3 separate regions of the Homo sapiens genome follow, and regions 1 and 3 are each linked to region 2. The links come from fine-mapping of genetic effects on gene expression. A gene starts in region 2. Each other region holds a variant in brackets. All regions are shown on one strand. Distances are between the middles of the regions.

Region 1 (10,844 bases), 760 kb before region 2:
TCTGGCTTTAGCTGGAGGTTCTCACGGGGTCTCCCACGAGGTTGCGGTGGTCAGATGGGGTGCATCGTCTGAAGGCTCGGGTGCCTCGACGTGCCAGATGGCTCCCTCCCAGGGCAGGTGTGGGTGCTGCCTGGCAGCTGAAATTTCCAGGGCTGGAGACTGAAGTGTCCGTTTGCACATGGCTTCTCCACGTGGCTTGGGGTTTTCACAGCATGGTGGCTGGGTCATGAGAGAGAAGGTACCAAGAGGCCCACACTGAAGCTGGAGGGCTGCTTATGAGCTTGCCTCAGCAAAAGTCCCAGCCACATTGTATGGGTTAAGCAAGTTACTTAGGCTAGCCCAGTTTCAGGAGGAGTGGAATTAGATGCCACTCGTCAATGGGAATTTGTGGCTATCTTCGATCTACCACACTTTGTTTCATAAATAAGGAAACTGAGACCCAGGAAGGTCTTATCCATAGTCATTCACGCTGTTAATGGCAGATTCTGGACTGATACCTACACCCCACCCACCCCTACCCCAGCCCCACAATCTTCATCATTGTTGATAAAGGTGTAAAGTAGTTTTTTGCTGATAAACACAAAGATTATTATAATTAGAAGGGGAAAAGCCCTCCTTTAGGTCGAAATTCCAGGCTGTGTTTTAGGGACTACTCATCGAATATAGAATTTTTCACAAAACTTCATAAGATCCCTCCCTATTTCAAATATGATAGGGATATGTGGCTATCTGTATAGATACAAAATTCATTCATAACAAATAAAAGCAGCCATAACCTCCCGTGGCCACTCAACTCAAAACTAGACCCTGGGGAAATTCTCAAATTATCTGTGACAAGTATTTGCCGAGCCTCTGTATTTTGAGTATTTTATCAAATACACCATAAAGAAGGTCTCCCCCTGTGGAAGTCTGTACTTTAAGGCCAGAAACAGAATAGAATGGGTAGTGCTGTCTTAGAAAGCCAACTACCCCAAAAGATGCCCTCACCACATCCTTCCCAGATACTCCACTATCAACCCAAAACAATAGAATTTCTGCCAGAGTGTCTTCCTCATCATCTGTGTGGCAGAGACTTTAAGATATCCAAAAATCTATCCTCCAATTTTTCCCACAAGTTTCATCTGGCCATATGGCTGTTTGCATGAGAACTCTAATTCCCAGCTGCTCATGCACCACATTCGGACCAATAGAAGATGTACTGAGGTAGGTGTGTGCAATGTCTGGAACCAGGACCTCAAAGGGAAGGAGTGCAGCCTCCACCTCTCTTCTGCCTTTTCTGCTGGCTGAAATGCCGATGTTCCAGTCAGAGGTAGAACAGTCCTCTGACCCACAAGATGGAAGCCTGCTGTAAATGAGTGTGACAGTCACTGGTGCTGCTTGCCATATTCAGTTCTCATTGCTCTGTGGGAACACCTGTAGGAAGGTTTCTGGCCACTGAGTTGCATGTATCACTTCCAGGCTGAACATTCTATTGCTGATGTAAGGCGTTTGCTGTGGCTGCCAAAAACATTACAGATAGTGGCAGTTCCTTCAGCATGACTCTCGGAAAAGGACAATGCCTCTTTGTTGATCTGCAATAGACAGCTAGCACAAGGGAGAAATAAAACCTTGTTGTTTTCAGCCACTTAGATGTTTAGGATTGTTTGTTTCTGCAGCATAGCCTAGGTTTTCCTGACTAACACACCAGGTAACAAGGTAGAAGGGTCTTGGGTCCCTAAAATCATAGCACCACGATCGCTTCTGCACTGGTGGTTCTTTAGCGACCAAACGATCTCCTTGCCAATATAATCATCTTTAAGGGACCAAATTTGGAAGTTGTTTTGGCTCCTGGTGATTAAAAGGGCACCAGAAACCTGAACTTTGAGTGCTGAGCATAGTTGAACGTGCAAGTTTGAAGAAATAGAGTTTAATCTCACAAAGGAAACTCTGAAAGCCAGTGTCAAACCCACACTCCACCCAGCATGGTAAGGGAGCTGGGGTCTTTATTCATCAAATCCTGAGAGTCATTGGTTGAGTGTGGCTCCTAATTTTTTAGCATTTCCAGCCTGATGTGTTGGCAGCAAATAAAGTCAGTTTGGAAGACAGAGAAAGCCTTCAGGTGAAGCAATGTAAGTGCTGGCAGTGTTGAAAGTTGGCCTGTGTGCATTGAGGAGGTAAGAGCAAGAAGATATGGACAAGGCACCACCAGCAGGTGCCATGTTCTTCTAGTTTCTCCACCCTATCCTTAGCAGGAGCCTCTGTGTGCAGGTGCTGACAGGAAGAGCATCTACAATCCAGCAAGCACAGCCACATCTGAGTAAAACCCCAGCACAGCCCAGACCCTGCTCCCCGTCTCTAGCCTTCTTGTTTATCCCTTACATATTCTGCAGTAACCAGACTGAACATCTGTAGCTCATCCAATATTTGTGTCTGTCACTCTCTAGCCTTTTGCATATTCTGTTCCTACCGTTCAGAAGTCCCTTCTCTGGCTACAGAGGCTGAAATTCAGACATAACTTCCCCAAGAAAGACTTCCCTAGCCACTCAAGTCCAAGTGAGATGCCCATCCTCTGAGCTCCCTTTGCCCAGGTCTCCCAGTGTCCACCCCAGCTTATTTGTCCCCTTGCCCCAAACCAATAACCCCAGACAAAATCCTGACTAGCAGATGAAGCAAGTAGGTCTAAATACTAACACTGCAGTAGGCAAGAATCTCATTCTTGCAAGAGGTGGACACTCCTCCCATGCCCACACAGCACCTTCTGTGAAATAACTGTCCCCAAGCACCTTGCTTACTGGATTGGCCATTTTTGAGACTCTTTCTTTCAAAAAAAAGAGGTCCCAGGGTGGTAGTTGCTACATGAATCCTGAGCAGAAGACAGCAGCAAGCTGGTCAATCTACAGATTTTGTATAATGATAGAGAAATTACCATCCACCCCTTCACACCTACCCCAACCCAAAGCTGACCCAATGCTCCCTCTGACTGGAACAGGAAGCTGTGGCTTCCTGCACCATGTTCTAGAAACAGTGTCTCTTCTCTCCCACTCAGTGCCTCCTCCCTTTCTTCTGTCCTGGGAACTTCCTGGGAAAGCATCATTTTTCCCCTAAAATGATAATCAACTGTCTCCAGCCTCCTTATCATAAACAAATAAGAAACACAGATAAAGGAGCAAACATGAAATAAGATGTTAAAGAATACAATTCTCACCAAGAGCCCAATGGACTCCCTAGAGCTTCCTAGGTTGCAGTGGTTTGAATGATGGCATCCACTCCAAAATTCCAATTGAAACTTAATCTCCAGTTTAATGGTATATTAAATTATGAGGGCTCTGCCCTCATGAATGGAATTAGCACCCTTATAAAACAGCTTGAGGGAGCCCTCTCTTGCCCTTCTGTCCCTTCTGCTGTGTGAAGACACAGCGTTTGTTGCTTCCAGAGGATGCAGCGATGGGATGCCATCTTCGATGCAGAGCATAGCCCTCACCAGAAACCCAACATGCTGAACTTGATTTTGGACTTCCCAGCCTCCAGAACCATGAGAAATAAATTTCTATTGTTTATAAATTACCCATTCTGTGGTATTTTGTTATAGCAGCACAAACAAAGATATCTTTTGTCTGAAAACCTAAATGCCAAAAGCAGGCCTGGGTTATTCTGGGAATATTGGCCAAAGAAGGTTGGACCTGCCTCTAAGAGACTATTTACAACCCCGAATGCAAAACCCAATCCCCAGTGTCCCCTGCCAGTGCATGGACTACATCAGGGTCTCACTCATCTGCAAGTAGCACCACCATTTTCTGAAGAGAAAGAACTCCCATTCCCAAAAGGAACAGAAAAAAAAAATCACATCTATACTCTTTCTGCTTCCTGTGACTTTCTTTCTTCTTTGTTCTTTTCCTTACTTGAAAGCAGTAGGGCAGAATTCGTTTCGGGGAATCCTTGTAACATTTCTTCCCTAGTAAAAAATAGGGAAAAATAAAATATGGTCATAAAAAAACAAAGTCAAAGGAAAGGAGAGAAGGGAATTAATAATATTTGTTTAACACTTAGTATATGTGCAGTATTGTAATAGCTGTTTTCAGTCGTTATCTTATCAGTACCCACAATCTTCTGAGGTAGGTATGACCCTACTTTACAGATGAGACGAATGACAATCAGAGAGGTTCAGAAATTTGTCCAAGATCCACAGCAGAGGTGGAAAACTCTAATATGATCACTCTTCTTTTTTATCTCTTTAACATGGCCAGCCATCTGCTCTCTCCAATGCCAAGTCCATCTGCTGTCAGAAGGCCTCAGCTCCCCTACCACAAGTTCACCCAGGTTGATCCAGGCACCTAGTTTGCAGAAGCTTTCATGTCTGTTTGACAAAACACAGGAAAGAAAGGCACTCCAGGCACAGTGTGAGCTACAGAGCTTTCTGGAACAAAGGGTTTTAAACTCACCTTTTTTGAATGATCTCAATTCTGAGAGAAACAAATAAAAACAAGAATTTTTCAGCTGTGGTCTGTTGGAATAGCTGGGCACTTTTCTCGGTATGTGACATCATTTTCCTTCCAGACTTCCATGATAAAAATAGCCTGGCAGACCCTTTGAACCATTGTCTTCCTGAAACACAATGTGGATTGTGTGTGTGTTTACCACTTTGAAGAAACACTTTGTGACATAAGCCATGCTGACAAGCTGTTCCAGGGGCCTGACTGACACACAGCAGGATCTGTACACTTGTTAGGCTTACACTGAGAAGACACACACACACAACACACACACACGCTGCT[C/T]TTATGTGGTCCAGCCATCTCACACTCAGCACGAGGCCCCCATTCTCTCTCTCCTAGGCAGGTAGATCAGGAAGATGCCTATCAGAATTGTAAGAAACTGCCATCTTAAATTTTCTAACTGCTTTCCTATCTGGGTGGACTTAGTACATCCCGTCTGTGGACTCTGTCACTCAGGTGACCTCTCTGGGCTCTGGAAAGGTGAGGTGAGTAGGCCTCCTCTGTCCTGGGGCCTTGACAAGGGCTCCCCCTTATAATAGCACTTTAGATGGAGAGCTGGTTGCTGGAGAGGAAGTGAGGACACTTGCTGTGCAGCGTATTTTGGGAGCGCAGGGAAAGGAAACAGACCTATGTCTGCGAGACTCACAGTATTAGAGCCTCTCGGTTAGACTGAAACATTCTGGCCAAGACCAGCTGCTCCACCCCTCCCCCAAAATCTTCAGCTCAACAGTCACCAGGGCATGAAGCCACTTGACTAAGTCTCATAGTCACCTGTCAGCGGCCCCCAGCAAGGGCTCCACACCCAAGCCCTTCCCATATCTGGATGTCCATGGCTACCCCGTATCCACAGGAGAGATGGCAGGACAAAAAGGGAGGAGTCATGACTGGCCCTCCCACCAGAGCAGCAGCAGAGTGGCCTAAAGGTCTCCAACAAAAGTGAATCTAAGTGTTCAAGGTGTATACCCTGTGGGTGGCAGTCACTCCTGCACTCCCCATCAGAATCCTTGGTCAGACCCAATGTACCAGCTAGTTCAACTTTCTCTAAGCGTCATCAGGCCCATGACCAGCAGGAAGTGGTGACCAGCAGATGAACCTACCCTTAGTCTAGTGCAAGGGCAAGTGGACACCCCAGCCAGGGGAGTGTAGCCCCACCACCACCCCTATCTTCATGCGCAGGCAGGCCCCAGGGCCATCAATGAAGAGGCAGCATGGCTGCAGACCACCACCAGCCTGCGGTCTCCTCCTGTGCCACCTCCAGCCCCCACTTCTCCCAACGATCCCTGGAGAGGAAGAGGAGCCCCAGGTTTGAAGTGACTTTAAGGAGTATCTGTCTGCTGCAATCTCTGCAATCTCTGCCTGCAGTCTTGCATAGATGGGGAACTCACTCTTCCTCGGTCAGCTTATTCCACCTCCAGCCATTTCCTTACTTCAACCTCATACTTCACCCAGGACCTCCAGGGCCATGTGGAGCCAGTGCAATCCTTTGAACACCTGGACCTACCAATCACGCTGCTCTCAACTCTACACGGATATGAGCATGAAACAGTTTTCTTTTTCTCCAGTGATTTTCCTCAGTCCTACCTCGTCAGCTCTCCCATTTCCTTCCCTTCATGACATTTTGCAGATTTAAGCTCAAATTCTGTTTAAGCCTCATCTTCTTCCTTCCTCTAATACTTGCTTCAGAGAGGCCCTGAATGTGTACGGGGAAAGGGTCATGGTCTATTTCTGAGTCCTTCTTCTTCAGGGCAGCACTCTTCAGTATATGTCAGGGTGAGGGGCTAAGAGAGGAAAACCAACCACTGTTTCTTTAGTCACTTGGGTCCCAACACAGTCCTCTCCCTGTTGGTTGCCTCTGCTTCCCAGGCTAAGAGCTGGGGACTAGATTTGGCCCAGCTGCAAACCTCCCTATTGGTTGGCACAGCTGTTGGCACCTCCTGGGACAGGTGTTTCAAGAGCTGTGTGTCTGAGTCTCAGAAGACCCTGCAGAGCCCTTTGGATGGCACAATTCTTTGCAGTCTCTCTAGTGCCCTCGGCTGGAGTCACCTGCATGCATCCCATGGCCTTGCAGGAGCACTGGCCCATCCGTTGGGCAGTAACTCAAGTGGGACACTGGAGAACCATCTCAATCCCAGCTGCCTTCCACAGGATGCCCTCCCTGGGCCCAGGGAAACCCTTGCATTCCTGCCTGCCTCACCTTTCCTTTAGGACCCATCGGCTCAGGGCATTTTGATCATCAGTAATCCCATATCCACTAAAGGTGCAGGTGAGAACACAATCAGTAAAAACAGCCTGAAAATTCCACCTTTCTGACATTCAAAAGTGAAGATGGACAAAATCACGCCAACAAAATGGCACCTTGTAGTGGATTCAAAACTGTAGGAAAAGGAGAATATGTGGCAGGGAGTGCTATGAAGTGAGAACATCCACATATTGTGAATAGCTCCATGCAAATATGGGCACCAAAACTGGCTGAGCTATGTGGTCCCCCTTGGGTCGGGCAACTTCCCAGACCACCTGGCAGTCATCAAGGACAGCACTGGGCTGCTTAACAATCTCATTTTATTATACTTTATCTCTTTTTCTCCAAAACTGAAACCAAACTATCACTCTACACTGAATATTAGCCACATGGAAAGCCTTAAAATTCAACCCATTCTCAATAATTTGACTTTTTTAAATGGGGAAGGTATATTGTTCTCATTTTCCTATTCTCATACTCAATGGGGAATTGAAACAAACTTTCCATACACTTGCAAAAAAATATATAAAAAGTATCACCTGAAGCTGAAGCCAAACATCAAATATTTAACTCAAGCAATATGAAAGGTGGTCAGTTTTGCTCATGAAAGCAGTCACGTCGTAGTTTCATAAGTGACGTGTAGAACTCATTGCACGATAGCATGGCGACTGGTATTTGGTTGTTTTCTCTTCTCTTCTTTATCGTCCAGTTCCTCTCCACTGTATTTGTGTTCTTTTGAGCCCTAAAAATGCCTATAAGTTTAGCAGATTTAGCAAATTTAGCACCATAAATGTACTATCTCACAGTTTCTTTAAGTCAGACGTCTGGGCATAGCATGGCTCTGCTGGTTCTCTGTGTGGTCTCATAAGGCTAGAGTCAAGGTGGCAGCGCTGCACCCCTTTCCGGGGGCTCTGGGGATGAACTGACTTCCAAGTTCATTCAAGTTGTTGGCAGAATTCCCTTCCACGTAGGACTGAAGTCCCATTTCCTTGCTGGCTGTTGGCCAGGGTCATTCTCAGCTTCTAATCGCTTTCTGTGGCTTGGGGACTCCTCTTCCATCTGCAAATCTTTCTGGCTGAGTCTTCCACATTGAAGGGTTCCTGTGAGTACATTGGGCCCACCCAGATAACCCAGGGCAATTTATTCTAAGGTCATCTGATTAGTAACCTTAATTCTGGCTGTAAAACCCCTTCACAGCAGTACCCAGGTTAGTGTTTGATGGAATCACCCAGGACAGCAATCCTGAGGGACATCTTTAATTTTTTTCTTTTTATTGATATATAATAGATGTATGTATTTTGGGACATATTCATATAATGTGCAAAGATCAAATCAGGGTAATTAGGGTAACCATCACCTGAAATATTTATCTTTTCTTTATGCTAAGAACATTCAAATTATTCTCTACTAGTTATTTTGAAATGTACTATATATTAGTGTTAACTATAGTCACCCTACTGATCTATCGAACATCAGGTCTTATTTCTTCTATCTAACTGTATATTTGTGCTTATTAATCAACGCCTCTTCATCTTTTTCTATCCCCTGCCCTTCCCTGCCTCTGGTACTAGGGGACATCTCCAGAGCTCTGCCTACCACAAACTCCTTTCCCTCCCATTTACTAACTTATTTTTTAGTTTAATTTTCTTCTTTGCATAGATAAAGACCCAAGCAATTTTAGCACGGATATCCACTCTTCTGTTCTGATTTGAGGGGTATCTACATGGTAGCATCTCTGCCATTCAAAAAGCACTGAATTTGCAATCCAACGGCATGGACTTGAGCCTTGGTTCAGGCAAATACATGAATGACCTGCATGCACATCTCTTATATCTGACAGAGGCTCAGTTTCCTCAGTTGCGAAATAGGGATGATACTACATCTCTTAGAGAAGTGTATAGCAATTGAACAAAGTGATATATTTGGAAGTTCTTTGGAACTCTAAACTGCTTTGCACATGTGTGCACATTCAGACATGCACACAAAAACTAGGTTCAGCGTAAACATCACTCCTCCTGTGAAGTCTTCTCCAACTCCTCAAGGCAGGGCTGGATGTCCCCTCTCAGCTCTGAGCCTCCGGAGCCCAGAGATGCATGCCTCTAAGACAGCACTTGTCTAATTCTACCATAATTATTTATTTCTCCCATTAGACTCATTTCCCCTCCAGGGCAGGGGTCATGTCTTATTCACTGCCATCTCTGCAGCACTGAGCGCAGTTTCTGATGTGGAATTGGCACACAGTACATGCTGCTGAAAAAGACAGCAGCCCCTCCCCTCGGTGTCCCAATGCCAGCCTCTGACAGGGTGCTGGGCCCCTACCAAATATCAAAGGCCAAGGACGTGGGCTTTGAAGCAGCCCAAAAGAAACCAGTATCTTCTCTGGGAGGTGAAGAAAACTAATGATTAGTATTCCTAGGTCTCCCTTTGCTGATCAGCAACACACATCCCCCCTACATCTCTTTTTTTAATTTATTTTTAACCTTCCTACTACCTGCTACACAACGTGTCCCACCTCAGTTGAAAGTTGTGCTTTCAAGTCCCCAAAATTGAGCATAAAGATTGATTTCTCTTTATTTCTTCTGCCTCCATACACAAATCATCAAGTCTTGTTTCCAGCTCCGAAAGATTACTCAAATCCCAAACTTAGGAAACTCCAATCCTTTATCAAGACTGCATAACCTTTTCCTCAGAGATTGATGTGGTTTTTATTATACTGGTCAGCAAACAAATTTGCTCTCTGTTTGAAAAGAAGACACTATTCTTACATTCCCAAAGCTGTTTGCTTGAGAAAATAGTCCAGAACAGAAGCTGCAAGTGCCTCTGCTTACATGATATGCAGGAGCAGAAAAGACACATGGAAGATGTCTCCCAATGCTACTTTGAACAGTGTGAAAATTAAGGAAAAAGTAAATCAATTTAAGTATTAGGGTGCATTAGGCTGCAAGTAACAGAAATCCCCACTAACAGTAGCCTAAACAATAAAGTACAGAATAGGAAGTCCAGAGCTGGTTTGGTAACAATACAATGGCAACAAGGACTCAGGCTATTTCTGTTCCACCATTCTCAACTTGCTTCCTGTTGGTTCTCGTTCTCAAGATGGATGCTGCAACTCCAGGCATCACAGCCACTTTCAAAGGAAGGAAGCAATAGCATTGCCAGGTGCTGAAAAGGTGCCCTTTTAGTGAGTCTTTTTCTTTTTATCAGGAAGAAATATTTCCCAGAAGCTCTGTGGAAACCTTCCCTGTATGGCCCATTGGCCAGAACTTGGTCCCTTGGTTACTTCTATCTGTAAGGAAGGCTGGGGAAGTATTTGGTAAAAGGGAATAGGAGGCAGTGATTGGTTTGGATCAATTATGATCTCTCCTAAGATTTATTGCCACCCTGAATAAAACCAGAATTCTGTAAGAAGAGCAGAGAATGTTTGCTGCTCCACCACCTAAGTGTTATGCTGTGCAAGGATAGTGTCTCACACTAATCAGTGAAACTCAAACTTCTTTCAAAGAGAAAGGCAAAGTCTCGTAAAGAACTTCCAATATCAAATACACAGAAGCAGGGCTTCTCCACCTCAATATCAAATACACAGAAGCAGGGCTTCTCCACCTCAGCCAGGAGCGAACATTTGAGTCTCTATCCACTTAGCCTCCACTCAACAAACCTCATCAGCACACACACACACACATACACACATATACACACACACTCATACACACACTCACACACATGTACACACTCATACACACATGCACACATAAATACACTCACACATGCACATACTCATACACATACAATCTCACACACACTACACGTCCACACACTCATACACATAGACATACTCATACACATACACACACACGCAGTCATACACACATACACATTCACACATGTACAGACATACATACATTCACACATATGTGCACACACATGCATATACACACCACACACACAAACACATATACACTGTCACACATACGAATATTCACACATACACTCACACATGCACACATACACACATATGTGCACACACATATACACACACAGATACAGACACACACAAACTCATGTACACAACAGGAGATAAGCTAAAATCTTTGGGATCAGAAAAAAAAGACCATTTGTTTAAATAACTGGTGAATAAG
Region 2 (10,809 bases):
GCTTGAGCCCAGGAGTTTGAAGCTGCAGTAAGCCATGATCATGCCACTGCATATGAGCCTGGGTGACAGAGGAAGATCCTGTCTCTAAAAAGAAAAAGGTTTGTAATCATGGCATATATACATAATTTTGCAGCCTCCATTGAAACAATTTAACAAATTATTTTTTCATTTGATACATGGTAATAAACATATATTCACCATTTACTGAGCACCTTCTAAGTGTTTAATGGTTTAAACGTAACATCTTTTTATTCCTGCCATTGTGATTTAGGTATTAAAGATTAAATAATTTGCACAGCATAAGTCAAAGAATGAAGATTTATAACGCTGAAACTTAAAAAAAACCATAATTTACAATGACTACATCCTTCACCAACAGGATCTACTCTCACGTACTTAACCGTTCTTTCACTGTTAGACTGCTAGGCTACTTCCAGTGCTTCTTGTGTAGTATTTCCTAAACTGCCTTCGTATAGAAATCTTAGTGCTTGGTCACTGTTCAAAAGGACTTCTGGTTCTAGTCCAATGAACTAACACACAGTTCCTTACTGAGCATTAAGCATTTCCTAGCTTCTCAACTGGACTCCAATAGAAAGTTAAGCCCTAAGGCACCTTCCGTACACAATGAATTCATCAAGAATGATAGTGGCTGTGCACCATCATTCTCTCATAGAACTTGGTTGAGTTTTAATGCACAGCTGTGATCCACCCCAGTCCTACAAATTAGAGTTGCTCTGACTTGTACAATGATGGAAATAAATCTGTCTGCAAGCAGGGCACTATTTACTCTTCAGATTCTTTAATCACATCTGGCTCCTGCAAGTTCAATTCCACTTGTCAATTTCTAGATATGTAGGGAAATAGGGAAGATGTAGATAATCTGATAATGACAGCATTGAACTGTGTTATATTATCAGTTACTTTTCCTAGCCTTTTGTTGACATCTGGTAGACTCCACACATATAGCACTTTTCAAATGTTGCAACATGTCAAATTCCTAACATCAAAATTTATATATCCAGGTAACATTTATCCCTTCCAATCAGTTTTACTGAATTAGGTATACTTGTGTTTGCTCTTATCTGTCTCTACTTATTAGACCCAAGTAACATTTACCTCTTCCAATCAGTTTTACTGAATTACGTATACTTTTGTTTGCTCTCTTATCTGTCTCCATTCATTAGGCCTTTGACGGCATCACTACTTTTGCACTTGACGATACATGCTGATGATAAACTAAGCACAAAGAGCAATACATGCCATAGTGTCCTGACTAGGGCACGAATGCTGGAACTAAAATGACTGCAAGCCCACCAACACAGGCTGTGTGGAAAACAGCATTGATGTGCCTTCTCTCTGGTACAGCTTCTGAGAAGCTTCTAAAGTCAGCCATACTTAAGTAGGACAACAGAGTACAGACAGTAGACTCCTGCAAGTTAATCAAAACAGCTGAGTCAGGCAACATGGATACCTTGAGAACTGCTATGATAACATGTACTGAAGCAGAGGGGAGCAAGTGTGGAGAGAGACCAAGCCTGAGAATGTGCAGTGCTATTACTCCTAGTAAGAGGTGGCAAAGGCTTGGCCTGCGACTGTGCCCCGTAGGCTGGGAACTGTATAACTCATTCATTTGTCTTGAAACACAGCAGATCTTGATAAATGTCTGCTGAATGACTAGGAATGGAGAGAAAGGGACTGACATAGAAATTCTGAAGGAAGGGCAAGGCACGGTGGCTCATGCCTGTGATCCCAGCACTTTGGGAGGCTGAGACGAGTGGATCACGAGGTCAGGAGTCCAAGACCAGCCTGGTGAAGATGGTGAAACCCCATCTCTACTAAAAATACAAAAATAAATAAATAAATAAGCTGGGCATGGTGGTGGGCGTCTGTAATCCCAGCTACTCAGGAGGCTGAGGCAGAGAGTTGCTTGAACTCAGTAGGCAGAGGCTGCAGTGAGCTGAGATCACGCCACTGCACTCCAGCCTGGGCAACCCAGCGAAACCCTGTCTCAAAAAAAAAAAAAAAAAAAAGAAATTCTGAAGGAAGAGGTAACATGTCAAATGGTGATGGAGAAAGACATCAGGGACCAGGCATGGTGGCTCACACCTGTAATCCCTGCACACTGGGAGCCTGAGGCAGTGGACTGCTTGAGCCCAGGAGTTCGAGACCAGCCTGGGCAACCCAGGGAGACCCTAGGTGCATGCATGACGGTGCACACCGGTGGTCCCAGCGACTTGGGAGCCTGAGGTGGGAGGATCGCTTGGGCCCAGGAGGTTGACGCTGCAGTGTGCCATGATTGCACCACTGAACTACAGCCTGGGAGATAGAGTGAGACCCTGTCTCCAAAAACAAAACAAACAAAAACAAACAAACAAACAAAAAACAAAAAACAAAAAACCCAGTTAATAGGGTTGCTAAAAAGCAAAAAAGAAAAGGCAAAAACTGTTCCTGAACCTTCTGGCTCTTCCTGGATCTACCATTACCAGTGGAAGAATTCTGAATAATTCTTACTGAGATTGAAAGAGACACAAAGAATGAGTTGTGCCCTCTAGTTCTTAAAACCTTGTTTAATTCTACATCCCACGGTGTATGAAAATAAGCTTGCTCCTACAGAAAAGAGGTAATATAGAATGATACATAATCAGTACACTAGTAGTACCATATATAATCAGGGTAATATCAAAGGCCTAAAAAATTGATTATAAAAATAAATTCTCTCACCTGATCACAATTTTCTTCTACTTTGCTACAAACTTATTTTCTGGTAATAGGCCCTTTTGGCATTAGATGCAACAGAATCGATGAGTCAATTTAAATCGTTTTTTTTCCCAGTCTCTAAGCGAATGGTTGCATAAAGTCGTCTCCTTCACTAAAAGGGGAGTGTATGTAGGAACGTGATCATAAATTTTTCTTTTGGGGTGAAAGTATTTTGGAACTAGATAGAGGTGATGGTTGCACGACACTGTGAATGTCTTAAATGGCACTGAATTGTACCCTTTAAAAGGACTAATTTTATGTTATGTGGATTTTCCTTCCACTAAAAAACTGAACGGTGCGGCCGGAACACTGAGCTCAGTGAATTCTCTAAGTAATCAATGGTTGCACTCTGGTGCCCTCTGAGTGTTTGACCTTTCACCCAGAAAAGGCTGTAAACTCACTCTGGGAAATCATCTTTTGTCCTAAGAGCCTAGGCTTGCTAGAGGCACAGAGGGAGTTTCAAAGGCCTCAATCACCCAGGACACCGGCAAGTAACGCTTTGCGCGCCGCGGCCGTGACCTCGGCAGGAGCCGGGGGCTTTGTTGTCGCTGTGCTCGCCCTCTGCGAACGCTGTCGCCCCGACACAGCGGTCCTTCGGACAGCCTGGTCCCTCCCCACCCCACGCACCTCCAGGCTAGGACTCCGGGCCACCACCGGGAACCCCCGCCACCGGGCACGTTCAGCCTCTGCTTAACCGGAACGGCCGAACAGCGCAGGCCGGCAGGAGTGTGGAGGCGATCGGCCCCCGGGGACGCCCACCCCCGGGATCCCCTCCGGCCCGCACGCGGTTGCCGCGCGGCCTGACGGGAAACGTAGTTTCCGGGGCCAAGAGAGCAGCCCCGCCCGGGACTTGTTTATCGTTGCAAAGAGGGGCCGGAGGCGAAGGAGGCGGCGAGGCTGTGCGGCGGGTCGGAGCGACGCCGAGGTCTGACGTGTCCGCGTCCCTGCGGCCCCACTCCCGGCCGCCGTGACCTCCCCTTGCACGGGGCGGACACGAGCAATGTCACGGGCCCCGCCGCGCGCCGCGAGCACTCACCAGGGTGAGGGCTGCCCGGGTGGGCTGCAGCTTCCTCTTGCTCACAGCCCGGACAGTTGCCCGGACTAAGGAAGCCGACATCTTCGCCGTCCCGGCGCCCCGGTGCCTCGGGCCGAAGGTCGGCCGCCTCAGCTTCTCTCCATGGACACGGCGGGCGCATTGACGCCACAAGCTTCGGCGCACGGCGCCCTCAGTCCTAGCCCCGCCCCCCGCCGCCACCATTGGGTGAGTTGCATGAGTGACGAGCCGGGGGCGGGGCAAGCCGCTCGGGGCGGGGTTTTGCCGCTCAACGCCGGGGGTCTAGCAGCTGGGTTGCGCACGGTCTCCGGCAGTGGGGTTACCACGCTGCAGGGCGCAGGGCCCGGGAGGAATGTCTTCACCGCCGAGGACGGAGTCGGCGTGACGTCGGGGAGCGGGCGGGAGGGGGCGAGGAATGACCTCAGACCTGCTGACTCCGGATGCACGTAGCTTCACCACCTGCCCCCGGGGCAAGGTGCAGCGTCACCCCCTGCTTTAATACTCACCGTGACAAACACCATCATAGGCGGTGACACTTAAGGACGCATAAGTCAACCCTGCACTGGGAGCTTATGCTCTCAAATGCAGAGTGATCGTTCCGATGCCCAGACATCTACATCCATTTTCATTCTTCTTTTGTGGTCCAATTAGGCTGTTCTTAAGAGCATGGCGTTACCGCAGAGTTGTATAATCGCCACCCTCCACCCTTCTCCCCAGCGTGCTGTACTGCTGGGGATGCTGAAGGGTGGTGACTAATGCAGTTTTCATTCTGGTGCTGAACTGGGAACCAACCCTACTTGAAAATGTGACTGGGCAGCAGTGTGAATAGTCACATTTATAGCGAGCAACAATTACTCGATTTAAAACGTGTTGTCAGACCTTGTCCTGGCTGCTCAGGGGCTTAATTCTGCCTTTTGATGCAGTATTCCTGAGCACCAGACACTGCACAGGCGCGGTACCCAGGCATACACAGGAAGCCAGGTAAAGAGGGGCCAGGGAAGAATGAGATACTGGCAGGACAGGGCTAGCAGATGAAGAGAGGAGGACATCAAGACAGGTGGCATTTGTCATTGAAGTGCTAGAAGTGAAGGAAAAAGGGCAGGAGGGGTCTATGAAGCAGTCCTGGGGAGGACAGATTCGCAGTGTTTGAATGTGGGAAGAACTAATCAGTGAAACATTTTTTAAAGCCAAGTTTATCTTCGATCTCCTGCAGTTTCTGAAAGGATAGTTCAAAATTCCATCAAGTAGTTCTGACTTCCTGCTACAGAAATGCAATCGCATTGACAATAAGAGGACGCTTTTTTTTTTCCCCTAAGCCTTATCTGCACATAAACTGGGGGCCGGGCGCGTGGCTCACGCCTGTAATCCCAGCACTTTGGGAGGCCGAGGCGGGGAGATCACCTGAGGTCAGGAGTTCGAGACCAGGTTGGCCAACATGGTGAGACCCCATCTCTGCTAAAAATACAAAAATTAGCCGGGTGTGGTGGTGCACACCTGTTATCCTAGCTACTCAGGAGGCTGAGGCAGGAGAATCGCTTGAACCTGGGAGGCGGAGGTTGCAGTGAGCTGAGATCGTGCCACTGCACTCCCAGCCTGGGCAACGGAGTGAGACTCTGTCTCAAAAAAAAAAAGAAAGAACGGAAGATAGGAAGAGAGAGACAGACAGACAGATAGAAAGAAGAAAGAAAGAGAGAGAAAGAAAGAAAATAAAAGAAACTGGGGGCCGGGCGCAGTGGCTCACACGTGTAATCCCAGCACTTTGGGAGGCCGGAGGCCGGCAGATTACTTGAGATAAGGAGTTCTAGACCAGCCTGGCCAACATGGTGAAACCCCGTCTCTACTAAAAATACAAAAATTAGCCGGGCGTGTTTGCGGGCACCTGTAATCCCAGCTACCCAGGAGGCGGAGGTTGCAGTGAGCCAAGATTGCGCCACTGCACCCCAGCCTGGGTGACAGAGCGAGACTGCATCTCGAAAGAAAGAAACTGAAAAAGTGATGGGAGGGAGGAAGGGAGGGAGGGAGGGACATAGAGAGGTGGTGGTGTGGTGGGTTTGTTTCTTGGCCTTCATCTTTGACTACCTGGGGGTTTGGGATCTCATATCCTCCCTCCTACAGATATTGTGAAGATTAAATGAGTTAATACAGGAGAAGCCCTTAGAGGGGTGCAAGGCACACAGCCTCACTCAAATGGTAATTGTTAATGAGTATTTAAAGATGCCATGTATTGTGAAACTACTATAATGGTGGATAGATATCATTATGCGTTTGTCAAAACCCACACAATGTACACCACCAAGAGTGAACCCTAAGGTAAACTATGGGCACTGAGAGCTAATGATGTGTCCATGTAGGTTTAAGATTGTAACAAGTGTACCACTGTGGTGCAGAGTGACAGTGAGGCACATGTGGAAACAAGGGATATATGCAGTTCTGTTTTTCTGCTTAACTTTGCTGTGAACCTAAAACAGCCCTAAAATTAAAATTTAATAAAAATAAAAGATGCTGTCATTTTTTTTTCAGTTATTGACACATTACACAGTTGTGCAGCACTTTACAAGATTCAGAAAACTCCATGAGCATATTATATTATCTCATACTAGCCTCACAACTTTGAACTGAGTAGGGCAGAAGCACTGGCATGGCAGTTTTACAGATGCTGAAACTCAAGGATTTTAGTAGAGAGCATTAGACACTATTGAAAACATCTAGTCCTCAATTTTCTGATTCAGGATCCTGTGTATGTTTAACAGACTTCTTTCCTCTATTTAATACCCACTATTTAACAAAAACAAACAAAAAAGAAAACCCCACTATTCAGTTTTTAACTTGGTTAGTTGTTTTGCACATAAGCATTAAGTCACATAATCTACTTGTTAGTTTCTAATATCACTTGAAACTGGCACAAGTCCCTGAAATAATGTTATGTTAGAATAAATAATTTTCACGATTATTTAAGCAGTATGTGAGCTTATCTCAGAGCAGCAGCTGTCCAGTGGTGTCAAAATGAGGTGGGTATGGGAAGTGTCAAAAGAGTTACAAGCTGTAACCACTTTTAGATTTCCACTAATATGTGACAGAACTTGCAATAGGGAACTGTTTCACCCCGCACTTCAGGCATTAGTTTCATAGTTCTAGACATTTAAAGAAGTGTTTTCCTGGTAAGACCTCACTTGATTATCACAACTGTGTGGAAAGCCAAGAATGGTTTCCATTTTATAGGAATGGAAACTGAACTGCCTGAGATTAGGGGACTGCCACACAGCTGGAAAACGAGGTGGGCCAGACCTTGTCTAAGTCTAGAGTTCCATTCAGTGGAAAGTCTATGTAGTTCTTGACTGCTGCTGTCCAAATATGCCTGCTTCCAAAGAAAAAACTACTGAGGGCTTTACAGTTTTACAGGGGTTTGATAAATTCTGTTTTCAACGTGTGTGTGTATATTTTTGCTTGTAACACTGAACTCTATTGATGTATTTATCCAGGATCTTTTCCACTCAGGAAAGATTTAAAAGTAGAAGCCATTTGTCAAACATATTTCAAGAAGAAAAATACACTGAAGTTATCTAAGAACATTTAAAAACATTTTTGCACACTGCTGATCCTGCACACATTGAGCAAGAGTTTTGTTGTTGTTGTTGTTGTTTGAGATGGAGTCTTGCTCTGTCGCCGAGGCTGGAGTGCAGTGGTGCAATCTTGGCTCATTGCAACCTCCGTCTCCTGGGTTCAAGTGATTCTCCTGCCTCAGCCTTCTGAGTAGCTGGGATTACAGATGCCCATTACCAAGCCCAGCTAATTTTTGTATTTTTAGTAGAGACGGGGTTTTGCCATGTTGGCCAGGCTGGTCTCGAACTCCTGACCTCAAGCGATCTGCCCGCCTCGGCCTCCCAAAGTGCTGGGATTACAGGGGTGAGCCACTGCACCCAGCCAAGCAAGAGTTTTAAACATCATAGATTGGGGCCACTGGACCACTGCTATACAAAAGAGATTTCATATTTTTGTTCCTGAGAGAAGGTGGCAAGGAGAACCTTGGTAATGGGGCATTTGTACAGCTTAAGATAGATAAGCCGGCTGCACTTGAAAGATAGCTAGGCCAATGGACTTAGCAAAGAGCAGACGTTTTGGCATCCCAGCTGGGGCAGCAAGATGGGGCTGCGACCACATCCAGGTAAAGAATCAAGGGCAATCCATTATCCAGGCCTGCTGGCAAATACTGCTCATTGTCCCATGGATCCAGTGTGAGGTATTGAAAATCAAACAAAAGACCCAGTACTTTGGGCAGAAGCTACCTTAAGGATCAGATTAAAATGTAGGAAACTTTTAACATCCTTAAAGGGATACAAGAAAATATGGCTCCTATGAAAAGGAAGAGAATATAAGTAAACTAAAGAAATGAGAGGTAAAGGAAGGTCAGTGAGGCAAATTCCAGAAAATTAGAAGTGCAATGAGAAAATCCATATTAGAAACAGGAAGCACCAGAATGACAGTAAAAATTAAGCCAGTCATGTAGAGATTAAACTTGAAGTTTTCCTAGCATGAAAAGTCACTGGATAGATGTATTTCTATATTGAGGTAATTTTCTTTCTGAATTACAGGGATAAAATTAAAAAACAGAAGCACCCAGGCAGAAAAACAAAACCTACAAGAGAACAAAAATCAGCCTGGTCTTAGACTTGTCTTCTGCTATAATGCTAGAAAACAACAGAACAGCATCAATGGGCTTTTCAAAGAAAAGTGTGACAAGCATTGTAAGCCTAGTCGACTTTCATGCATGAGTTAGAGAGAAGAAACCAGAAGGGGGCAGCTGAGGACGGTCACGTAGAGCAGCATCAGCCCAGGTTGCGTCATTCATTAGTTTGCGTTCAAAATGAGTAGGGAATGATCACTAATTCTTTCTACCATGGCCTCCAAATTCTGAAGTCTTTAATTTTGATATGATTCGTCTTTAGCTAGACTGTCTTCAAATAATTGTTTAAAAAAGAAGGGCACAGGGATGTGCGTCTTCTGAGTCCTCAAACATCCAGAATGTTCGTCCAGCAAGCACCCCCTGAGCCTCCCTGCCTACAAATTCCCCGCCCCCCCACCCCCATCTGTGCCTTTTATAATAACAAATTTATACGTTCCCAGAGCCTGGAACACACTGGATGTTAACACACACCAATGATTGCAAGGGCACAAGTCAAAGGGAAGTCTGTGTACACTATTTTAGGGGAGTATATTTGTCCTTTCTTCTTTTTTGTTAAACGCCTCTTACTATCATTCCCAATGTTCTCACTCCTTGATCTTTTTTTTTTTTCCCCAGGAAATTTAGGAATCTTTCACTAGAAAATAATGTAGATAAAATTACAGGTTGAAATTCTGATTTTATTTCAAAATGATAAATAAACCGAGGCATAGTTCTGACCAGGTACTATGTCTGCAGGGCTTTTGAAATTAAAGAAACAGTCCAGGAGGGCTCCAGTCAGACCCAGAATGACACCAGCCACACTTGTGACTGGCAGAGATAACCTCTTTGATCTTCAGCAATTTTAAAAGTTCTTCATCCTAATTTCTGAGTATCATAAAAAGTAAAAAGTACTTTCATTTTATTTTTCCTTTGAAAATGTTTTTAGTGGCAAACAGGACTACTTGTTTTCCTTACTTCATTTTTATAAGCATAGTAGTTATATGTCAATTTACTTAAAATTAGAGAGGGAAACCCCAGAGACCTGAGTGGCACTGCCCATCCACTGAAGGCCCACATAAATAGGTACTCATGTTCATGTTATCACGTCTACAAATAGCAATAAAATGATGTCCGTAAATCGGAAGTACAGCAGTAGCAGTTCATACATATCTGATATGCTTTCACACCAGGATTCAGTAAACAACAATAAATATAATTTCCCCTCTTCAAAACAAAAAATGGATTTATACGGAAAAAGGGTTAATTTACTTGGGGTTTATCAGCACACCATTTTTAATGTGCTTTGAAAGAATTAAAAACCATGAAACTGTATTCACTGAATACCGGTCCATAGTTATATTTTTTCTTTTAACGTGGCTTAAATACATACATCATGTCTTTCTATTAAAATCCTTAAATCTATGGGGATGTGTGGTAGATAAGACTATATTAAAAATTTTTCCTCATTAACAATTTCATTAAATTAAAAAAAAATCTGACATTTCCCTTAAATGTTAAGTTGAAGCCTGATCTACACTGCTGTGTCCTGTGAAATGAACCTAATTTTCCGAGTGAATAGGAACGCCTGAGTGGCCATTTAGAGTGCTGCATTTTCCTTCCCTCATGATTCCTGCTGGGTCCTCTTCGCTGAGGCTTTTCCCTGAGTCATATATTTACTGGAAAGGCTACCTAGAGGAGGGGAAGAAACAAAACCCAATATAAATGAAACAAGCCTCGCTTTATGACAAAAGCCATAAAATTACTTCTTATTAAGTAGTCACAAAAACTTCATACTAGAATTGGTCACTTGTTTTGAATCAAGTAATAAGACTTGATATTGAAAAGTATATATGCACATGATTAATTAAATATAAGCTTAGTCAAAATTCTTTCTGAATGCAGACAGGTTCCTAGAGTGATCTCATTTTAATACATTTACATATTCACTATTTCCATGTTGGTACAGAGCACCAGACGAACTTAAGGTTCTGCCTTGTATAATTCAGTATCTTCATTTGCAGCCAAACATAATAGATTGCAAAGAATTATCTGGCCAGAAATAAATATCTTAGATCATTACTCTGCAGATACGAAGCTGTGGATGGTAATCATTGTAGCAATAACTTATTGATATAAAAGGAAAAAGGGAAATTTATTATATTTACAGGTGGAGGACACAAATGAGGATTACTGATTAAAACCAATACCACAGAATAGTTACTAAATTTTGTTCTGGAGTCTGAACAAATAGATCAACGAAAAAACTGAAGAGACCTGAGAAATTCTTAAGTGATTATATGTAACAAAGTAATACATAATGAAGTTTGCATTTCAAACC
Region 3 (10,393 bases), 24 kb before region 2:
GTCTTCATGTCTGCTGCTGTGTAAACTACTCAGAAAGTTTGCTTGAACACCTGATTTGAACTATAAACCAGAAAAATCTGTCAGATTGCTACTGCAATCTGATGATACTTCAGAAACTCTAGAACAGCTAGTTTATAGATAGACCACTTCAGACATTACTCTGTTTTTCTTCTGTTTCCATAGAAATGCCTCTTATTAAAGATCTGTTTACCTGCATTGTATAGAGAGGCCTAGCCCATCTGCAATGCCATCTTCTGGAATGGGAGAAAATGGTTTAACTGAACTGATGTATTTTCAGAACTAAGAGACTTGGCCGGGCACAGTGGCTCACACCTGTAATCCCAGCACTGTGGAAGGCCAACATGGGTGGATCATCTGAGGCCAGGAGTTTGAGACCAGCCAGCCAGCCTGGCAAACATGGTGAAACCCCGTCTCTTCCAAAAATACAAAAATTAGCTGGGTGTGGTGATGCATGCCTGTAGTCCCAGCTACTGAGGAGGCTTAGGTGGGAGAATGGCTTGAACCCAGGAGGTGGAGGTTGCAGTGAGCCAAGATCACACCACTGCACTCCAGCCTGAAAGACAGTGAGACGCTGTCTCAGAAAAAAAAAAAAGAGAGAGAAAAAGAAATGAGACTAATTCAAGAATATATGGACAATATATTTAAATTTGCTCTTTTTTGCTTGTCCCAAATTTTTCCCACTCCTTTGCCTATCTCTATCTAACAACTTCTAACCCAAATCTCTCCAAAGCCATCAACATGGCTTTTAATATGTGAAAGTTTTTTAAAGTTTCAAAGTAGGACTGACAGAAATAAAAATATTTTACCCCCAAAATATCCTTCTTTGATACATTTTGAGGTGTCTGTTCAGAGAGCCAGCAAACAGAAGTAGCCCTGCAAAGTTGTCTTTCGTGGGGAGATTTGCATCGTACACAATCTGCCTTGATGCAGCCTGGCTTCTTCTGAGCCTTCCCTTGTTTGATGTAGGAAAGATTAACTGAGAGTTTGACACCTTTGAAGGTGGGAAACATTTACCATGTATTCTTTCTGAAGGCTGCTACCTGTGAGGTTTCATCTACATAGCAAGACCACCTTTGCTAGCCAGGCCTCCTCTTCTCTCCCTGCCATAACCTGTCATGCACCATAACCTGATTTACCACCATAACTTGTTTTGGGCCATTCTCTGAGCTCCCATTCTCTTCGTAACCTCAAGATGGTATGTAAGCTTCTGTAACCCACTGGGCGTTTGGAGCAATCATTCTGTGGTTCTTTCCTATGTGCACATAAATAAATTCGTATGCCTTTTCTCCAGTGAATCTGCCTTTTGCGAGTTATTTTTTTCAGCAAACCTTCAGAGGGCAAAAAGGACATTTTTCCCTTGGCTCCTACAGGGGTGTTGTTTTCTGAGCCATAATAAGCTCATCTGGCCAGGTCTTATATTTTGCTCAGGGGACTTGGGGAAGGAGAACTTTGATTTAATCTAACACGTTTTTCAGATGTTCATTGTGGCACTTCTTACCCACTTTCACTTATCAGCTGCCTCTGTAAGATCATCACACCTGCAGCTTTGCTTGACGCAGTGAGTCCTGGTTGTGATTCTACAGCATTCTGGAATCATGAGCACAATGTGCATTCACAGATGATTCTGATGCGTGAAATATCCACTACTGTCTTCTCACTTCTTACTTTCACTCTTCAGCTGCTTATGTAAGATCATCATACCTGCAGATTTGCTTGACTCAGTGAGTCCTGGTTGCCATCCTACATCATTCTGGAATCGTGAGCACTATGTGCGTTCACAGATGATTCTGATGTGTGGAATATCCACTACTGTCTCCATCATTATTTTAGGTTTCAATGAATACCTTCGAGCCACTGATTCAATCTAATATAACCCAATAGCAATGATAAAGATTGCAGACTTACTAAACAGAAATAAGCAAATGTTGTGAAAAATATATTAACCAGAATGAACTGTATCCTGCTAATTGAATGTTATTTAAGAACATTTGATTAATGTCATCTTCGTGGAAAATGCTCAACATTTAAATACGCAGGAGCTATTAGGAACAAAATGAGATTTCTGGGAAATCATTACTATGTTATTTTCAATTTATGAAGTGTGACTACAACTGTTTCATTTGGGAAAGGAAAGTAGCTCAGAGCAGTCGGAAGAATCTGAGGAATGCAAAATTTATCAGAGAGACAGGAGAGTCTCATTAACCCTATGCCCAGGGTTAATTGTTTAAAGGCATTTTGTATTTTTCTTCTATTGCCTATAGTTTCCAGACCAGCTGATAAATTACCTAAAATGCTATGAGTTGCACAATGTGACCCTCACCCATATCTTCATTTTTCTGGAATTTGTGATACAAAGAACAGCGCATAGCCAGTCAATAGCTTATACTATTTTGAGTGAGTCACTGTGGCATGCACCTGTAATCCCAGCTACACGGGAGGCTGAGGTGAGAGATCACTTGAGTACAGGAGTTCAAGACCAGCCTGGGCAACACAGGGGGAAACCTTGTCTCAACAAGAAGAAGAAGAAAAAAAGAAGCTTACGGTATTTTAATGAACCAATGTAAATACTTGGTAAACAACTTTAGAACTACCTCTTCTTTTTTCCCTTTAAAAACCCACTTATAATTGCCGATTGGAGCATATATTCTGGGCAACTTGAATCAATGTCCCCAGGGTTGCAGTCCTCAAACTTGGCTCAAATAAGCTCTCTACTTATATTAATTTTGCCTTGGCTTCTTCCTTTAGGCCAACAGATTGCCTTTTCTTCTGAAACCCCAAAGCACCTGTGGCTCACTGCAGCGATTACTGGGTTCCATGCTTTGGGAATGCTAGTCTAAGTGAGAAGACTCCTTGGGGAGGAGATGGGAGCCCATAGGAACCTGAAGATTCCCCTGCAGAACAGCAGGCCTTTTAAGCTCCTCCCTCCTGGCTTTCACTTGTAATCAGTTGGAGGCTCCATCAAGCCAAACAAGACATCTGCCCCTTTTTCAGTTCTCTCAGCTGTCACTTTTCATCTAGACTTCATTAGCTCCTGCCTGGTCTTTCCCCAAAATGCCTAATGGACTTTCCTGGCTGATTTCCTTGATCCCTTACCCTTGAGTCTGGCTGTCTTCCCAGGGGAGCCGCTTGTCTGACATGGCAGCTGGCACAGAGTAGGCACTCAGTAATTTTAGGCCTTCTGCTTTAGTTGTCAGAGGGTGAATTGACAACACGATTGATTGACAGGGAATGCAATTTACTACTGCTGATATAACAACCAGAACTGAAAATATGACAATCAGACTTAGCTCCTCAGAGAGGGGAAAAGTCTGTGGTCTTGGCCAGGAACAGATCAGTTGAGTGGATTTATATACCAACACAATGGATGACAAAGGTGACAGTGTCCTGTCACGATGGCTTCAGGGAATGAGCGGTGTGGGCAGCTCAAACAACCCATCTGGGGCTAACGTGGAGGGGGAGAGAGCTCATCAATCTTGAGCAGATATTAGATGCGGAGGCCAGATTGCTTTCTTGTGTGGGTTTTATAGCTGTGCACATTCAACTATTAAGGACAACCTTTATTACTAAAATTTTTGTAGGACGGGTGCGGTGGCTCACGCCCATAATCCCAGCACTTTGGGAGACCAAGGGGAGCAGATCACGGGGTCAGGAGATCAAGACCATCCTGGCTAACACGGTGAAACCCTGTCTCTACTAACAATACAAAAATTAGCTGGGCATGGTGGTGGGCGCCGGTAGTCCCAGCTACTCGGGAGGCTGAGGCAGGAGAATCACTTGAACCCAGGAGGCGGAGGTTGCAGTGAGCCGAGATCGTGCCATTGCACTCCAGCCTGGGCGACAGAGTGAGACTTTGTCTCAAAAAAAAAAAAAAAAAAAGGAAAAATTAATTTTGTCATAGAGGATGAAACTCTTAATCCTTCCTTTGAAGTAATTACTTTTAGAGAGCTTGTTTGGAGGTTCTAGCAGGGGAGTGCAGCTACTCATATACCCTTGCCCAAAGAACGGCCCTCCTCTGTTGGGGAAGGTTGTCCGCAGCGTCTGGAAGGACGCATGTGGACGGATGAGGGAGGAAGGAGACATCCACCTAGCCAGCCAGATCAGACAAATTAACCCTGGCCATCAGTGGGGTGACAGATGTTGCAGCCAGATCACCCTCACATCCGGAAATAATTGCTTTTAAAACGCAATATTTGAAAACCTGAATTTTCTTGGGTAAGCAACTATTATATTGCTAATTTAACGAAACTTTTTTTAAAAATATTAATATACTTAAATTTTAGAGCAATTTTAGAATTGGTTAGAAAGTACAATGTTCCCACAACCCCCCTTCTCTGCACCATACACACAGCTTTCCCCTTTTTTTTTTACTACTTATGTTTGTGTGGTACGTTTGTTATACTTGATGAGCCGGTATCAATGCATGGTTACTAACTAAAGCCCATACTTCACAGTTTACATTACGGTCCATTCTTGGTGTTGTGCATTCTATGAGATTTCACAATGTGCAATTACATATATCCACTTTGATAGTATCATACAGAGCAGTGTTTTTTTTTTTTCTTTGAGATAGGCTCTCATTCTGTCACCCCAGCTGGAGTGCAGTGGCGTGAACACAGGTCACTGCAGCCTCAACCTCCCAGGCTCAGGTGATCCTCCCATCAGCCTCCCAAGTGGCAGAGGAAAAACAAAGGACACTGGGTGTGAGGGAGAGGTGCAAAGTCAGGACCAAGCATCCATGGGAACACAGGGGAGGATGAAGGCACTGAGGTTGGGGAGAGAGAGCAGAGCTATCAGTGTTGAAGGCCGGAAAGGATGAGGGAGTCTGCAGGCTCGGCCCGATCAACTGGTTCCAGCTTCTGTGACCTGCCTGGAGGAAGATGAAACAGGCTCCTCATCCTTATTGGTAAAGATAAACCCAAATCCCATCTCACCTCCCAGCTCTGGTCTTCCCACCTTAGCCACTGCCCACCTCACTCCATCTCTCCTTGCCAAGCCTAGACTGGCTTAGTTTTCACTGCTCTGTGGTCTCACAGTGCCCCGTGGCTATGGCTGTAGATGCACTTACCACTTGTTTTACAGTTGTCTCTTCACGTGGTCATATCTGTCTTGAGTCTCTGCACTCCCAGGGCAGAGGCTGGGTCTCATTCATCCAGCAGCCCCAAGGCCCAGCCCCACTCCTAGCATGTGTCATTGCTTAGTGTTAAGTGACTGTCCATTGTGACATGTGGACATTCTCAAGGTCACATAAGCAGCTATATGATGCTAAGCGATGGGGAATTATCTTGCTGCTTGGTGGGGGGTGGGAGACGGTGGAGGATGATGGAAAAGCATTTTTAAAGAGTGAACATTGAGTAGCTGAGTAGCTACTTTTTTTTCTGCCTCAGCTTGTGGCTGGGACCCCGGGCGCACGCCACCACGCCTGGCTAATTTATGTATTTTTCTCTAGAGATGGGGTTTCGCCATGTTGCCCAGGCTGGCGTGAGTATAATTTTTTTTTTTTTTTGAGATGGAGTCTCACTCTGTCGCCCAGGCTGGAGTGCAGTGGCACGATCTCAGCTCACTGCAAGCTCCGCCTCCCGGGTTCACGCCATTCTCCTGCCTCAGCCTCTTGAGTAGCTGGGACTACAGGTGCCGTGAATGTAATTTTTAATCAGTCAAGTTTTTCCTTCTATAGACATGGGCAAAGTGCAAATAAGAAATTGAGAGAGATAATAGAAGGTACAGCTATGCTCTTTGCACCTGGCCAGATATGGGTAGAAGTGGACCAGGGGCTACCTGGCTGTGCAAATTCTCTCCATGAGCCATGCAGCCGTGCTCCAGACTCCATTCCCCACCCATGGGAGGTCCCTGTGGCAATCACTGAAAATTTTCCTGAAACAGCCATTTCCCCAGAATGCAATCTACTGGGCATTTAAATAGTCTGATTGAGTTAATAACTTGTGAACACCGTGGCAACATATCCATAACATGAAGCTTACCGTGTTAAGCCGTTTTAGGTACACAGTTCTGTGGCATTCAGTACATTCACATTGTTGTGCCACCTGCACTGCCTTCCATCTCCAGAGCTTTTTCATCTTTTCCACCTGAATCTGTGTCCATGAAATAAATTTCTCACCCCCTGTCCCCTGTCAATGGACACCTGGGTTGTTCCTACCTTTTGGCTATTGTGAATAATGCTGTTATGAACATGGATATACAAGAAAGTTAATAATTTTAAGCAGAATTTAATAAATACAGAAGATTCTTCCAATGAGAAAATATTTCAAAAGCCTGCCATTCAAAGGTGTTCTGCAGAGCAACAGCACTGGCTTCACTTGGGCCTTTGCTACTAATGCAGAATCTCAGGCTCTGCCCTGGACCTTTGTTACAGAATCTGCTTTTTTTTTTTTTTTGAGACAGTTTTGCTCTGTCACCCAGGCTGGAATGCAGTGGTGCCATCTCATGTCACTGCAACCTCCCCACCTCCCAGGTTCAAGTGATTCTCCTGCCTCAGCCTCCTGAGTAGCTGGGACTAGAGGCGCCCACCACTATGTCTGGCTAATTTTTGTGTATTTTTAGTAGAGATGGGGTTTCACCATGTTGGCCAGGCTGGTCTCGAACTCCTGACCTCAAGTGATCCACTCGCCTCAGCCTCCCAAAGTGCTGGATTACAGGCGTGAGCTACCTACTGCGCCCGGCCAAGAATCTGCTTTTTAACAAGACCCCCAGGTGACTTATTTGCACCTTAAAGTTTGAGGACTGCTTCAAGACATAGAATCCATGGAGAACAAAAAATGAGTA[CTTTA/C]TTTTTTATTCTTTTTTTTTTTGAGACAGGGTCTTGCTCTGTCATCCAGGCTGGAGTGCAGTAGTACGATCTTGGCTCACTGCAACCTCTACCTCCTGGGCTAAAGTGATCCTCTCACCTTGGTCTCCTGAGCAACGGGGACTACAGGCATGTACCACCATGACCAGCTAATTTTTGTATTTTTTGTAGAGACGGCGTTTTACCACGTTGCCCAGGCTGGTCTTGAACTCCTGGGATCAGGTGATCTGCCCACTTTTGCCTCCCAAAGTGCTGGGATTACAGGCTTGAGCCAACACACCTGGCCCAATAAATGGGCACTTCATCATGAAAAGTTTCGGAATCACTAGCTAGTGGAAGTAAAAGCAGTAACCCATCAAGGCCCTCAAAGTAGGCTAGTTTTAAGCTGAGTACCGCTGGTACAGAGCCCTTGCCCCGCTAAAGGTTGGTGTGAAATGAAGCCTTCCCTGAACACTGCACAGCAGCAAGGGAGGATGGGAGTCCACAGTGATGTAACCACCACATGGCTCTGTATTTCAATAGAGGCTGAGGCTAGGGTGCACCTCCCTCTCTCCTCCATCTCTTGTCTGATGAGACCCACCTGGGACCAGGAGATTGAGTTCCTACTGGGGAATGAGCTTTCAAAACAGCTCCTCAATTAAGGCAGGTTTGTCTATAGTTAATCAGCTACTAAGAGAATGAAATTTCTCCGAATGTTTATATTTGAAATTTATGGTTCTTTTCAAAGAAGTTACTGTGGTCTTTTATTTGAAGGAAATACAGCAAATTTCCCCCAGATTTGAATATGGGACAATAACTCCCTAAATGTGTTGAAACTCTTTCCCTAAGCTCTTGCTTTGATTGATAATCCATTAACATATTATCCCTTTTTGCACAAGAAAATGGCTAAAAGGGACAAGAATTACAACGTATGAAACGTCTACCCTTAGCAGGATGCCATTTATGTGTAGTTAGCTCATCACATCCCCCCAAATTCTGAGACTGTTTTACAGAAGGTTACATGGCTACAAAATGACAGGAACCATGATTCAAATCCAGGCATATCTCACCCCAAACCTACACCTTTCCAGGCCAGCCTCCCAGCCTGCACTGAGCTCAGGTGAGCTGTATTTGGGTTTATTCTGGGTCGATGCTGTGTCTGGCCCATGCCACGTCTGCTCTAAGGCTCAAATGAGACACTGATGTTGCTTACAGCTCAGCTTAGCACAGGCTTTTCCATTTCCTGATTTCTCAGGTATCAAAACATGACAAGAAAGGCCATTTTTTTTTTGAGGTATTTCCTGCTGAGTGAAACCTAGGAAATACTGGAAATCTTAGGGACATCTGATCTTGTAGGGATTGTTCCCAACCCTTTCCTGTTTGAGAAAAAAAAAATCATTCTGGTGGGTCCGGTGACAGAGGGCTGGGAGGCGCCCTGCAACAATGAAGCACAGCAGGCCTCTGTCCTCATGGCCTGATTCATTCAATTTAGCATCCTGATGTGGAAGAGTGGGCTTATAACTGATCATGAAAAGCCTGAAGTCTGCTGCTAAGCGACAGATCTGCTGGCCTACACATCACCCAGGGGCACTACCAAATCGCCTAACACAATGACCAGTGTTTGTGAGTAGAATGTGGATGAATGTGGTGCAACAGACAGAACCTTCCTGGTGAGGGCTAAGGCTTGCATGACATGGTGTGACATGGCCGTAGGATGGAGCCATTTTGCAAAAATAATTCTGACCTGCCCGATGCTAAACGAACACTGAAGAAGCAATTGCGTTCCTGTCTCCAAGATCCTTTCAATATTGTACAAGAGACAAGAACCAAAACCAATGAACAGTACAAGTACTGCCTGTACAAATAGAAATGAGTCACAGAACACTGGCTGATGAGGTTGGGCTACGGATAGAGTACCATCCTTTCTGCCTCCTAAGCCTTTCTCTCACGGGTCCCTGCTCAGGTCCTATTATAGCGGGCTTTGCAGTAGCTTCTTCCTGTCCTCATCAGCCAGCCTAGTCCAGGCCATGGAAACACTTCCAAATGCAATTTTCTAATGAGTGCCCCTAAACACTTTCAGTGGCCCCAAGGCCTACAGAACTTGCAGAAAGCCCAAACGCCCCAGGCATCTACCTTGCCCTCCAGCCTTACTGCTCCTCTCCGGGCCTCATTCTCCGGAGTGCTTAGCTTCACTGTGTTTTTATTATTACTTTTTATTATACTTTAAGTTCTAGGGTACATGTGCACAACGTGCAGGTTTGTTACTTATGTATACATGTGCCGTGTTGGTGTGCTGCACCCATTAACTCGTCATTTACATTAGGTATATCTCCTAATGCTATCCCTCCCCCACGACAGGCCCTGGTGTGTGATGTTCCCTGCCCTGTGTCCAAGTGTTCTCATTGTTCAATTCCCACCTATGAGTGAGAACACGCCCTCTGTGTTTTTTCAACCCTCTTTAGTACTGTTCACTGTCTTCCCTCTTCCCCAAATCTCTTTCAACTAGGCGCAGGGGTCATAACCTGTAGGCTACCTTTTTAGAAGCGCACTCCGTTGGTTCTATCAGGACACGCAGTATGGCCTAACAGCTGGGAGCACAGCATCTGGAGCCATAGACACAGGGTACGATTCTGACTTGGCCACCTTAGCTATTTTATTTAAGCTGTGTTTTGGTTTATCTATGAAAAAGACAGTAGTCAGACCTGCATTCTCGATTGCTGAGATGATGTTTATTAGAACACTTCCTGGCATGCAGTGAGCATGCCATCACCACCAGCTGCTCACAACACTTACCATGGTGATCGATGCTCTTCGCTGGTGTCTCATTTGCCGACTTGAAGCTCTCTGAGGTTGGGACTGTCTTTGATGACCTGTGAAAGCTCAGGGCTAGTGGAGAGTCAGTGCTCACTACTGTGCCTGAGTGAACAGCTGAGAACCTTCTTGGAGGAGGTTCACATAAAAGCTCAGATGACAGAGGGAAAAGCACTCCAGGTAGTGATAATGCTCTCGTCCTAAGGACATGAGGAACCTGCTTGGGGGATGGATGACCCTCATGGGGAACAAGGAGGAAAAAGAGGCTAGCAAAGCCAGGGAGATGAGAGACACCTGAGATGGTCTCTCCAGGGCTGTGTGGAGAATCAGCAGCTAGGACTCTGGACGAAACAGTGTCAGGTAGGGAGGACGCCTGGTGACAGGCAGCCTAGGCAAAAAAGACAGTCATTTTTTTATTGGCTTTAGCAGCTGCTGTCCCAAACCCTCTCCCCTCAATAATAAAAGGCAATTTTATGATCACAAAGAGGCCACATTTTTTTTAATTGACAACTCAATCTCTACATACATACAGTGTTGCACGAATTATAAGTGGATCAACAATTATATTATTGATACAAACTCATGAGCATTTACATAAAACTACCGCTCTAGGTTTTGGTGTGTTTTGTGTCAGCTACTTTAGTGAATAAACGAAACATAAAGGAACTCAGCTACTTGAATTCATGAGAATCAGCTTTCAAAAAAAGCATATATATCATCTCATAGAATACTTATGTCAAACCCAGGAAAATCAGTAACTAAGTGACAAAAGGAACACTT

Which allele goes with the higher level. Positions count from the first base shown, and alleles are read on the strand shown. Sizes are in standard deviations (SD) of each study's normalised expression. Not every link is listed here.
As copies of T replace C in region 1, the expression in CD8 T cells of the gene that starts at base 3,954 in region 2 goes down (large effect, 1.5 SD a copy in CEDAR).

Evidence for each region. PIP is the estimated chance that this variant, and not a neighbour inherited with it, causes the effect.
Region 1: its variant is fine-mapped to the expression of ISCA1 in CD8 T cells (CEDAR, PIP 0.95).
Region 3: its variant is fine-mapped to the expression of ISCA1 in whole blood (TOPMed, PIP 0.99).

The regions. Positions count from the first base shown.
Region 1 is chr9:85,523,234-85,534,077 of GRCh38, forward strand. LOC101927603 (a long non-coding RNA gene) reads right to left here. Exons shown (of 2, transcript XR_007061633.1): 2 at 10,834-10,844. Among named protein-coding and RNA genes, the nearest start is that of AGTPBP1, 210 kb to the right of the region's middle. The variant C/T (reference allele first, on the strand shown) is at 4,752.
Region 2 is chr9:86,278,585-86,289,393 of GRCh38, forward strand. It overlaps ISCA1 (iron-sulfur cluster assembly 1), which reads right to left and starts at 3,954. Exons shown (of 4, transcript NM_030940.4): 1 at 3,794-3,954. The coding sequence starts at 3,874. LOC124902194 (a long non-coding RNA gene) reads right to left here and starts at 3,497. Exons shown (of 2, transcript XR_007061634.1): 1 at 3,385-3,497; 2 at 1-2,869. TUT7 (terminal uridylyl transferase 7) reads right to left here. Exons shown (of 27, transcript NM_024617.4): 27 at 9,149-10,160. The coding sequence ends at 10,093. RefSeq lists a silencer at 3,335-3,634 and enhancers at 3,805-3,954, 4,075-4,354.
Region 3 is chr9:86,254,464-86,264,856 of GRCh38, forward strand. C9orf153 (chromosome 9 open reading frame 153) reads right to left here and starts at 5,194. Exons shown (of 4, transcript NM_001276366.4): 1 at 5,087-5,194. It overlaps ISCA1 (iron-sulfur cluster assembly 1), which reads right to left. Exons shown (of 4, transcript NM_030940.4): 4 at 10,083-10,393. It also overlaps the pseudogene RN7SKP264. The variant CTTTA/C (reference allele first, on the strand shown) is at 6,802.